Homo sapiens: one gene and its partners. The protein of the gene in region 3 interacts with the protein of the main gene of each other region in a biochemical or structural test. Each region holds a gene or a part of one and is shown on either strand. Other genes may lie near its edges.

What was found.
Region 1: the proteins of ONECUT1 (region 3) and KAT2B form a complex in vitro, tested with the Homo sapiens proteins (one study listed by BioGRID).
Region 2: the proteins of ONECUT1 (region 3) and FOXA1 form a complex in vitro, tested with the Homo sapiens proteins (one study listed by BioGRID).

What each region holds. Positions count from the first base shown.
Region 1 is NC_000003.12:20,099,446-20,102,945, reverse strand, and holds part of KAT2B (histone acetyltransferase KAT2B), read right to left. Parts: intron 3,085-3,500; coding exon 2,992-3,084; intron 1,660-2,991; coding exon 1,478-1,659; intron 1-1,477. UniProt on the Homo sapiens protein: Functions as a histone acetyltransferase (HAT) to promote transcriptional activation. Has significant histone acetyltransferase activity with core histones (H3 and H4), and also with nucleosome core particles.
Region 2 is NC_000014.9:37,592,450-37,596,572, reverse strand, and holds the start of FOXA1 (hepatocyte nuclear factor 3-alpha), read left to right. Parts: upstream 1-1,323; 5' UTR 1,324-1,600; coding exon 1,601-1,672; intron 1,673-3,861; coding exon 3,862-4,123. UniProt on the Homo sapiens protein: Transcription factor that is involved in embryonic development, establishment of tissue-specific gene expression and regulation of gene expression in differentiated tissues.
Region 3 is NC_000015.10:52,780,337-52,783,836, forward strand, and holds part of ONECUT1 (hepatocyte nuclear factor 6), read right to left. Parts: intron 549-3,500; exon of another isoform or gene 260-548; intron 1-259. UniProt on the Homo sapiens protein: Transcriptional activator. Binds the consensus sequence 5'-DHWATTGAYTWWD-3' on a variety of gene promoters such as those of HNF3B and TTR. Important for liver genes transcription.

The DNA of each region.
Region 1 (3,500 bases), on a different chromosome or scaffold from region 3:
TTAAATTATACAATTCTTCCATGTTATCTGCTGTTACAGAAAATAACCTGGGCACAAGTGGTCTTGACAGGCTATCAAAAGATACTACTGCCCACTTTAAATCAGGAAAAAAGTAGGCACTAAAGCTCCCTAATGCAAGCTTGATGTGCCTCTGAAATATAAACAGAGAAAAGTTATAGAAAAGTTATAAAAAAGTTGAAAAGAATGGATGACCCAAGTCACAGTCCTTCAGATGAAAATAAATGTAGGTCCTTATATTTTGTATGGTACAAGTTTAAGATTTGTAAAACCAATTCTGTTATTCTGCAAGTAATAAGCAATAAAAATAAATTTCCACTTTAGAAGAAAATATATGTTCAATCCAAGACTATCTGCAGAGTTTGAATGTCCAGCAATAGAGAAATGGTTAGGTAAATTGTGGTAAATCAACTCAATGGACTATAATGTAACCTGTGAAATGTTTGATATGATATTAAGTGAAGAGACATAAAGGCTACAAAATTCTACATTTTCTTTCATTATAACTAATGTAAAATGTTATTTAAAAGGACAAAACCTGGAAGATAATATGTATAATGATGTCAGTTCCATCACAGTTCTGGAACTAAGCTAATCTTTCCTTTAAAAAAAATTTTTTTTTTGAGACAGAGTCTTGCTCTGTTGCCCAGAGTGCACGATCTCAGTTCACTGCAAACTCTGCCTCCAGGGTTCAAGTGATTCTCCTGCCTCAGCCTCCCAAGTAGCCAGGATTACAGTCACGTGACACCATGCCCAGTTAATTTTTGTATTTTTAGTAGAGATGGGGTTTCACCATATTGGCCAGGCTGGTCTTGAACTCCTGACCCAAGTGATCTACCCACTTTAGACTCCCAAAGTGCTAGGATTACAGGTGTGAGCCACCATGCCCAGCCTAAAAAAAATTCTTTAACTTCATTATATGGTCATTGCATTTTTTGAGTGAGGGCTCTAATTAATTTCAGAGTTATAGTGTAGCTATCTAGTCAACTATATTCAATAGATAAATAACACAAGCCACATATGGATTTTAAATTTTCTAGTAGCCACACTGGAATGGTAAAAACAGGTAAAATTAACTTCAATATATTTTATTTAATCCAATGTATCCAATGTACTATCATTTCTACATGTAATCAATATTTTAAAAGTATTAATGAGCAATTTTAAACTCCTTTTTGGTACAATCATAGAAATCTCAATTCAAACTAGCCACATTTTCAAGTGCTCATATAGCTAGTGGCTATCACACTGGGTATAGATGATTTACATCCCTCACACCTCAACATATTATGATAGCAATGAAAAGCAGGAGTTTGCAAGTTAAATTATAAAGACATTATCTCTGAATTGATGGAGTCATAATGATAACTAGGCAGCCCTATACTTATAGAGTCAAGTACAATTTTAGGTCTGTAACAGGCTTTATGGGGCCAAAGGAAAAGAACTTGCATCTGATTACCTTGTGTAGTTCTCTTTGTATCCAGAAATATCATCATTGGGAGATCGCAGTCTTCGTTGAGATGGTGCCTCCAGATGCCAATAGTTGATGCGGTTTAGGAACATTTTTGCCAACTCAACTATTGTTTGCCTTTCTTTTGCTGGCAGGTGACTAAATTTGTACTGCACAAAGTTATTCACACCCTTAAAAAGAGGGAAGGCAATTTCTTCATGCAGCTATGCAATCATACTAATTCTGAACACCCACACAGCCAGCATGATTGGTGGTTATTAGCAAAATAACAGACATTTCTCTATTCACAAAAATCTCTTCCTTTTCCCTAAAAGAAAATAGCAATCCCCAGAGGGAATCTTGCCTCAGATCACGGTGGATGAAAAGTGACAAGACAGAGAGGCTGTGAGTTGTGATTCTACGCCTGCTGAAATCCTGAAGCATTAAGGAGAAAATCAAAACCATGGACTGAAAAGGTCAAAACCCCTGAAACAAGAAAATATGACTGTTGTGCAGAATAATTATTGCTTTACTATCAGCAGAGTAGCCCACATATAATGCAGTTCTTAGATAAATATTGTTTTTACATTACAAAAATGCTAATCAAAAACCTGCTATCATGCCTACCACTGAACTAAACAACTAAAATTTAAACTCTTTACTATCATTTGTTTGAAGTCAATAAGCTTACCAAAATATATATATCATTCAAAATTATGGGCTTTTAAAAAAACTGTTAATTTAATCTTTCTACAGAATATTTCCATCTCATCTAATTTCAAATAAAAGAGCAATGAATTCTTATTTAATAGAGTTTGGAGGCAAAATAAAATTTACTGAAAACTGACTGATAAAAATGCATTTATTTTTAAGGATTCTGGTATCATGACTTCAGTAGTCATTCTCATCAAAAAATTCAGTCCAGAGTGTTTTTGTTTAGCCAAACAATCAAAGGCTAAAAAAGTGATGCTAATGAGAGATACTGACAACACCTAACAGAAAAACTCTTTACATTTTAACAGATTCCCTGAGTAAAACGGCTTCTTTCCAGGAATCATAATGTAGCAGGAAGTCCATTTCTGGGTACAAAATCTCATTTCTTTTTTGCTTTTTTTGCTTGACTTACAATGTTTTTCACATTGCTACTAAATCCCCTCACCTCAATAGGCTTTCTCAGACAGTGCCAAGCAAATGGACAAAGACTTCATTTTAAAGCACCAACAACAAGAAAAAGCACATTTCATGTGTTCTTCTTACAAACTACATGTTCTACTTAATGTTTTTCTTCCCCAAACACACAGTAAACTGTGAGTATGTAACAACCCTAAAAGGCAAAAGCTAGATCATGTATTAAATTAGGTATACACCTCTGATCCAAAGCCTCCAGGACAATTTCCACAGACTGGTAAACATCTCTAACCTGGGTATGGAGGAGGGAAGCCGTAGATAGAGATATAAAAGGAGGATTAAAAGATTTCTTCAGCCTTGAGCCAATAAAAAGAGGGCTTTTAAAATCTTTTTACCTGTTCAATGCTAGGTTTTTCAAATGGGGGTTTCTTTTCCAAAGAGCCTTCAACCACAGGTTTTCCTCTTTGTAAAATAGACTTTCTCAAGAGCTGCAAAGAAATCATTAAAAAAAAGAAAAAGAAAAACTTAATTGGTATGTCTATCTCTCTCTCCTCTCTCTTCTGTTTCTGTCTGTCTCTCTCTCTCTCTCTTACACACACACACACAGCCTTTAAAGGAAGTTACCATATTCTATTTATCTTAACTATATATAAACAAATCCTTAAGTCAATAAAATGGGCAACTATCAGGTAACCCAAATTGGCCTTCATGTCCACGGCCAGAGTTATGAAGAAATGGACACCTTTCATGTTCTGGGCAGCCTAGGCCACCCATGCTGGTCCAACAGACACCACCGTCCCATGCACTTCCCTCTTCTCCCCACTGTTTCTGGCTTTCCATTGACCCAGAGGCCTGGTATGCAACCCTACACACTTGGCACATGCCCATCCAGGCCACTATAGGT
Region 2 (4,123 bases), on a different chromosome or scaffold from region 3:
AATTGCCTATCACCCGGTCACTTCAGTTGTTCTCTCTCCCAGGACAAGTGGGCAACCACCACCCAGGGCCTCATGAGAGTAAAGAGACTTTGCGTTGGGAAGACTCTCCCACCGACGTCCAGGACCGATTAGGAACCAAGCGAGCCCCTGAGATCTCAGCCCGGACCCTCCGGGTCACAGACAGGACCAAGCGCCGCTGCGGGCAGTCTCGGGCTTCTGCCTGGCATCTCTTTCGCAGTGCAGATGCGTTCCCGCGCCCAGGCCCTTGCTCTCCCAGCTAACGCGCGTGTTATGGGAGATGTCCCCTCCCCCTGACCTTTTCCTATCAGAAACCAGACGGTCGTCTCCAGCTCACTCCCTGAAGCGGCTGAAGGGGGGCGGGAGGAGGAGCCCGGCAGGGGGAGGACGGCCCGACTTGGGTCCGCCTGCCCTATCACACAGACATCTGCTCTCAGTTTCTTCCTCTTTGTGGTCGCTACAGATGACAAGGGGAGAGGAGCGGACCGAGGCGGAACAAAAAAAAAAAGTTATGTCATAAAGATATAAACCGGTGCTGTGACTCACCTGCTCTTAGCCGCAGGTACGAGTTTCGTGGCAGCGCCTCCGCTCTGCTAGCCCGGGGCCCGGGTCGGCCTAACGTCACTTGGCTCGGCTGACTCAGATGACCCGGTTTCTAGTGACGAAGCAAAAGTGGGGCTTTTTCCCTTTTCTAGTCTGAAGCTCTCAGGAGGAAAGAAAAAAAAAAGTCTGTATTCTCCAGTCTCCCGGGGTTGAACTTTGGGTCAGGAATCAGGAGGGAGGAAGCAAAGAGCAGGAGGGGCGCGAGACTGGGCCGCAGCCCGCGCTCGGAAGGTGGCGTGTACCTCTGGGGAGGGACCCCGGGGTCAGTTATCCCACAAGGTCTCTAAGCCCAGTCTCCGACGCCACCGCCCCCGGCCTTCTCCGGCTGCGAGGTTCCGATCCAGAGCCCTAGCCCGCCCGCCCGCCTGGCCCCGCCTATTTTTTCTTTTTCCAAAGGGGGTTACACCCCCTCCCTCCCCATTTCCCTCTTTCCCTAGCCTCCGGGCCTAAACCAATTACACTGCTTTGCAAACAAAGTGAGGGCCCCGCTTGGGGGAGGGGTCGCGGGGGAGGGGTCGCGCGCAGCGGTGAAGCGGCGGGGCGGGAGGCGCGGCGGCCGGACTGGCGGGCGGCCGCCTTGCAGGTGCACCTCGGGCTTTGTAGGTGCGAGCGTCTTTGTGCGGCGGACAAATGGGGAGAGGACGAGGAGGTGGGCACTCAAGCGACGTAAGATCCACATCAGCTCAACTGCACTTGCCTCGCAGAGGCAGCCCGCTCACTTCCCGCGGAGGCGCTCCCCGGCGCCGCGCTCCGCGGCAGCCGCCTGCCCCCGGCGCTGCCCCCGCCCGCCGCGCCGCCGCCGCCGCCGCGCACGCCGCGCCCCGCAGCTCTGGGCTTCCTCTTCGCCCGGGTGGCGTTGGGCCCGCGCGGGCGCTCGGGTGACTGCAGCTGCTCAGCTCCCCTCCCCCGCCCCGCGCCGCGCGGCCGCCCGTCGCTTCGCACAGGGCTGGATGGTTGTATTGGGCAGGGTGGCTCCAGGATGTTAGGAACTGTGAAGATGGAAGGGCATGAAACCAGCGACTGGAACAGCTACTACGCAGACACGCAGGAGGTGAGAGGCAAGGCGAGGCGGGCGGCCGGTGGGGCGCCGCTGGAGCCCGTGCCGGGGGAGGCCGGGGAGCGGTGGGCGCCAGGCAAGGCAGGCAGGCGGGCCGGGGGCGCCTTCTCGGTGCCACCGCTGCCCGCCCGCCGGTGTGGCCCCGGCCGGGCCTTGGCCGGGCCTGGAAGCGGGACCTGCTGCCCTGCTCTGTCCCGACTCTCGCAGCCGGAGAGGGAGTTTTAGGAAACTCCGGGCTTTGAAAACAGCGGCTCTAGGAAGCGCTTGCCTCTTCCCAGCAGCGAGCGGGAGCAGGAGCCGGGCCCGGGGTGCAGCGGGCGGGCGAGCGCCGGTGCGAGTTGGAAGCAACTCTGAGAAAGCCGGAGCATACCCACAAGGCGACCTCTTCGTCCCACCGTTTAATTCGCAGACGTCTTCTGATTAAAGCGCTCTGCCGCCAAGTTGGGTGTCTCAATAATGAAACGATTTCTAAATTTTGTAAAACTTGTTCTTCAAAAGCCCTATTTGGGGAGAAGTGTGCTCCTTCTCTAAAACCGCTGGGTGGCGCTAGTGCGACCAAAATCTTCTTCACAACTCTGGGCCGAGAACCTGTTTCTCTTCATTGTCCCCTTGGTGGCACGTTCATGGGGGTTATTTTTACAATGTGCACAAAAGGATTACAGGGAAAACCAGTTACAGGGAGGACTACCACCTATTAAAAGTATTTTTCTGGAAACAGCTGGCGATTACCCTCCAAAAGTTTAATTACCATTATTGAAAACGCGTATTGGAACTGCCTTGGATAATCTTGGGAAGAGGGAAAGAAAATAAAGCCCCAAGGTAAAAAATACTTTTAAGACGTGGACAGAAAAATATAGGATCACGTAATATTTTGATGGTAACTGACTTATTTAGATTTATGTATTCACAAGTTTACCTCTGAGTTTATTTGCATACCATAGTTTACTGGGTGTTCCTATTTAAATCTATTTGTTCTCATATTTTCAAATTGAGTCATACTTGCTGATTAAAATAAACTTAAGGACATCATTATTCCTTATTAAATTACCAGAGGAGTGCTTTTTAATATGCCTAGGTTTTGTATGTTTAAAATACTGTACCTAATGCATTCCCACATCGCTATTGATAAGGATTTTCGCTTGTTGATGATTTTAAAAGGAGCTCAGAGGTCTTCCAGAGATTTAATTCTGACGCAGTCATCTCGACCCCACCATTCAATTAAGACCCCTAGCGAAAGTACTTTCTTACATGTTAAAGCTGAGAATTAGGAAATACAATAGCATTAAGAGAAAATAAGTAGAATTTGATTTTCGAATTTTAAATTATTCAAGACTACTCACGGAATCTCAAAGCCAGGCGTTGAAATCATCGGCAGCAACATCAGCATGTGAAAAAAAAAAAAGATTTATTTTGACAAACTGTGTCACCAAATTTTTCAAACAGGGGACTGTAAAGTGGTGACAAAATTAATGCGAGTTTCTAAATAGCTTGCAAAGGTGTACATGTAAAGTCATGTTAAAATAAAATGCATATAGCACTTTGAGATTATTATAGCACCCCCTCCCAGCCCTTTCTGTTATGGATCTACTTTTAGTTTTATTTTTCCAAAACTTATTTAACTCTGAGTTTGCTTCCCTTTTAACATTACAGTTGCTACAAGCAGGTAGAAAACACTACTTCTAAATACAATAAACAACAAAAAGTCACCATAGGCAAAAACCCCTAGGACAATAAAGCCACTTGTTGGGAAACAGATGATTCAGGGGGTCCCATGTCCATAGGTGATTTGCTCTATCAACGATTTCCCCCCAAAGGGCGCTTTGCCGAGGCTGGTTGGGGTGGAGACTTGGGATACCGCCTGGCGTGGATGGAGGAGGCGATGAGGGGGCCCTGGAAGCCAGCCCCTGAGCCTGGCGTGTAAGGCGATTACACATCTTCCTGGGGTCATATTTTCTGTGAGCGTTTATCTTTCATGCCTGCCGCGCTAGGATTTTCCCCCTGCCGTGCAAGACATCTTTGCTCGGTCTGGGGAGGGCGCTTAGCCATTTGCCCCGGGTGGGGGCGTCCCGTGTTCTGCAAAGTGCTCTGCACTTGCCCCCGGGTTAGGTCCCGGACGGCCGCCCTCCAGTGCCCACCACTAACCCCGCCCTCCGGGGCTTCTTCACTCGCTGTCTCCACTCCAGGCCTACTCCTCCGTCCCGGTCAGCAACATGAACTCAGGCCTGGGCTCCATGAACTCCATGAACACCTACATGACCATGAACACCATGACTACGAGCGGCAACATGACCCCGGCGTCCTTCAACATGTCCTATGCCAACCCGGGCCTAGGGGCCGGCCTGAGTCCCGGCGCAGTAGCCGGCATGCCGGGGGGCTCGGCGGGCGCCATGAACAGCATGACTGCGGCCGGCGTGACGGCCATGGGTACGGCGCTGAGCCCGAGCG
Region 3 (3,500 bases):
CACTTCCCCCTTTTAATGAGCTGGTAGTGCCATTACATAATCACCCAGCTCACTGGATTAATGATGAAAAGAGGAACTGATTTTTCCAGTTGCATCATTTGAAGTAAATGTTAACTTTCTTTCTGAGTCCTTAGTTAACCGCATTAGTGTGACAAATATGTCTTTGTCTAGCATAAGTAATTAGAATTTAATCACTTTAACTGCATCTTAATTACCCCAAATGAATTGAAAGGACATTTAATAGCAAAGATTAAATTGCCTTAATGAACGATTTTTGTGACTCCATCAATACTCGAATCGCTTTAGCCACTCCTCTCACGCACTTCAGTCGCAGAATCTGCAGCGAGCACAGAGGTCACTAGGTGGCGCGCTTCGCTCGTTTGTTTATTTAATTTTCCCCATTGATCTGTTTTAGAAGACAACAGGAAAGAAAGCAAAAAGCACATAGTTTATTGCGTTCCTTCGATAACCTCTCTTTGGGACTATGAGATCATCACCAGATGTGAAAACGAAAGCAGTGATTTCAGAAACCGTCGATTCTGAATATCCCGTGGCGGCATATGCAAAGGAAGATGAGAAACACATGGTGACTGGAAACATGCAGTGTTTGACAGAAATTGCAAGATGCCCTCTAGACAACTCCCAGCCTATATACTCTGTTTTGGTCAATTTATTACTTTTTAGTGCAGAGCCCTAAAATTTGAGTTACAGGCAATCTTTGAAATAGCAAGGCAGGCACTGATGTGGAGCCAAGAAGTGTAATTGCTGTCCAAGTGCAGATCAGAATGCCAATGCCTGAAGGTATGGGAAGATCTGAGCCCTTGGGCCCCCCTCAAGGCAAGGGACCGAATGGACCAGCCCCACCCACAGGCACATCTAATGAGATAGGTCTTGTCCATCAATAATTGTTTAAGTGAACAAAGGGATGGGAGGCTGGGGTTTCACATCTACTTCTGGCACTTCCTCACATTTTCTGGCTGCTTCTTCAAAAAAGAGTAATAAAAAATCTCTTTTACAAGTCTTGAGTATAAAAGAAATAAGTTTTCATAAGTGACTCTTTTTGAGAGTCCCAAAGGAAAGACACACTTTCTCTAATTTCAAGAGCTTATTATGTAGAGACTTTTGAATCAGTTATTTCCACATTCTGACTCCACTAACCTGGTGCACCTGTCCTGGCAACAGAAGCATGGGATGGAGGATAAAATGTTCTGGGCTTTGGACTGGGAAAGCTGAGCTCAGGGCATCACTGTTTTCCAGTGGTGTTATCACAAGTAAATTATTTAACCTCACTGAAGAGAGCAACAGGGAAAAAAGTGGTAAATACCACTTAGACTAATGGTTCCCAAACTTGGCTGCACATCAAAATCACCTGGGAGTTTATAAAAATCCAATGCCCATGTCACGTCCTGTACCAATTACATCAAAATATCTGAAGCTGCAGCTAGGCATCAGTTTTTTTAAAGGTCTCTAAGTGATTCCAATGTATAGCAAGATTTGGGAACCACTGGTATAAATGTTGAGTCTTCAATGAGAACATCTATGTTCCGATCACAGTACCCAACAAATAGAATGTGCACAAAAAACTTAAGCTTCTTCCTTATCAGTTACTATGACAAATGAGATTGGTTGTACTTTAGGGTCTAGTTCTGTCCAGCTGTTGTCTTATTAAATTGCCTCATCTAAAAGAGAAGAAAATTTCTTTTTTTCTTCAACTTTTATTTTGAGTTCCAGGGTACATGTGCAGGATGTGCAGGTTTTTTACACACGTAAACATGTGCCGTGGTGGTTTGCTGCACAGATCAACCCATCATCTTGGTACTAAGCCCAGCATCTATTAGCTATTAAGAAAAGAAAATTTCTAGAAATTAATTTGTTACAATTTTATGATACCGTAACATCTCTTGGAAGAGACATATGTGGATGCTTCTATAGCAAGACCCTGTGATAAGTAATTTTTATGTTTGTATCAAAATAATCAGATTGTCTTGTGATTGGTCTAGTCACCTAGCCCAATCTTATTATCTCAGGAGGAAATTAAACTTCGTTAGTATTAACATACTTGTATTAAAATAAGAACCTATACAAACCTATTGATAGAAGGTAGGAATTTATGATTGTGCACTAAATCCATTCACATAAGAAATATTTTTCTTTTTACTGGACTCTATGAGACTGACATTTTTTATGTAGAAATAATGTGGCTTTCTTCTCCCAAAGATGCTTATCCATCTTATTCAAATAGAGACACAATGAGAGTATTATTTAATAAATATTTGTTAAATGTTTTCTCCAGCATTATAAGAAATGCACCCTCTAACAACCACAACTTCAGTAACACCTTCCTTCTGTTGCTACCCTAGGTTGGGGGCCATTCAATTTTACCAAGAGTGTGGAAATTCTGCTGTTTTAATGGGGACTGAAAGGAAACTAGTCATTTCTCATTCAAACCATCAAGGCTCCTAGATTGATTTAAAATATTAAGTCGGTGTTTAAATATTCCAATAAATGGACTTTACAAAGAGCACAAGCAATGTCACTTGAGGAACAAGGCCTCAAGCTGAGGAGCAGGATATTGGAGAGCCTCCTTCTTAATTACCCACCTTTATTAGACTTGAGGATTTTCTGTCTTACAAGAAAATCAGAAATAAATTTTATTGGTATGCTCTGTAAGAACGATTTCTTCTGATAACTTGGGGTAGCAGCATTTGTTTGATTAGCTGAATTTGCCATGAATGTGGAAATAATGACATCAAAACAGCTCGTGTAACAACCTCCTTAAAGACCTCGTAGATTAGAGATGACTATAGATTTTCCCCAGCGCGGATCAAAGGGACTGAATTGAACGTTTTAGCTTAATGATCCAACCCCTGTCACACCCACAGGGACGCGAATTCCGATTTTATAAGCAGGTGTGCACGTGCACTCAGATACTCACACAAAGCCGCGTGGAGGGACGAAAAGATCAACCACCCGATCGACGAGGATAGGTTTGATCTTTTCGATTACCTCAGTGTGCCAGTGTATATTCCCGGCTGGGCCTAGCGCCCTAAGAAACTTCGGAACTTTAGCTGTTAATTTTTGTTTTCTTACTATGACTTCCCAAAGACATTCTATCTGCCTACCGGGGCGAAGAGAAATGGGACCAGGCGTCAGGGCGGTGGGACCCTGTCCAGGGTCCTGACTCCGCGCCAGGGCTCCAGACCAGTCGGCCTCCGAAGGCCCTTTCACCCACCCCACACAAGAGGAAACAAAGACTTCTCAGCTCAAGGCCTCAGGGCTGCCTCCTGACTCCGGTCAGTTTGCAGGAAGAGGAAACAACAAAACAAAGGAACCGCCAATCCGCCGGGTATTATATCCCTCAGCTCCAACCTCCGACTTCGGACCGCCAGGGTCACCTTCTCTACGCTGACCCCGCTTTTCTTAAATGAAAACACGCCAACAAAAGCATACTTCGGATACAAAATCCAAGTACGCATCTTTTTTGGGGAGGTTAGAGCTGA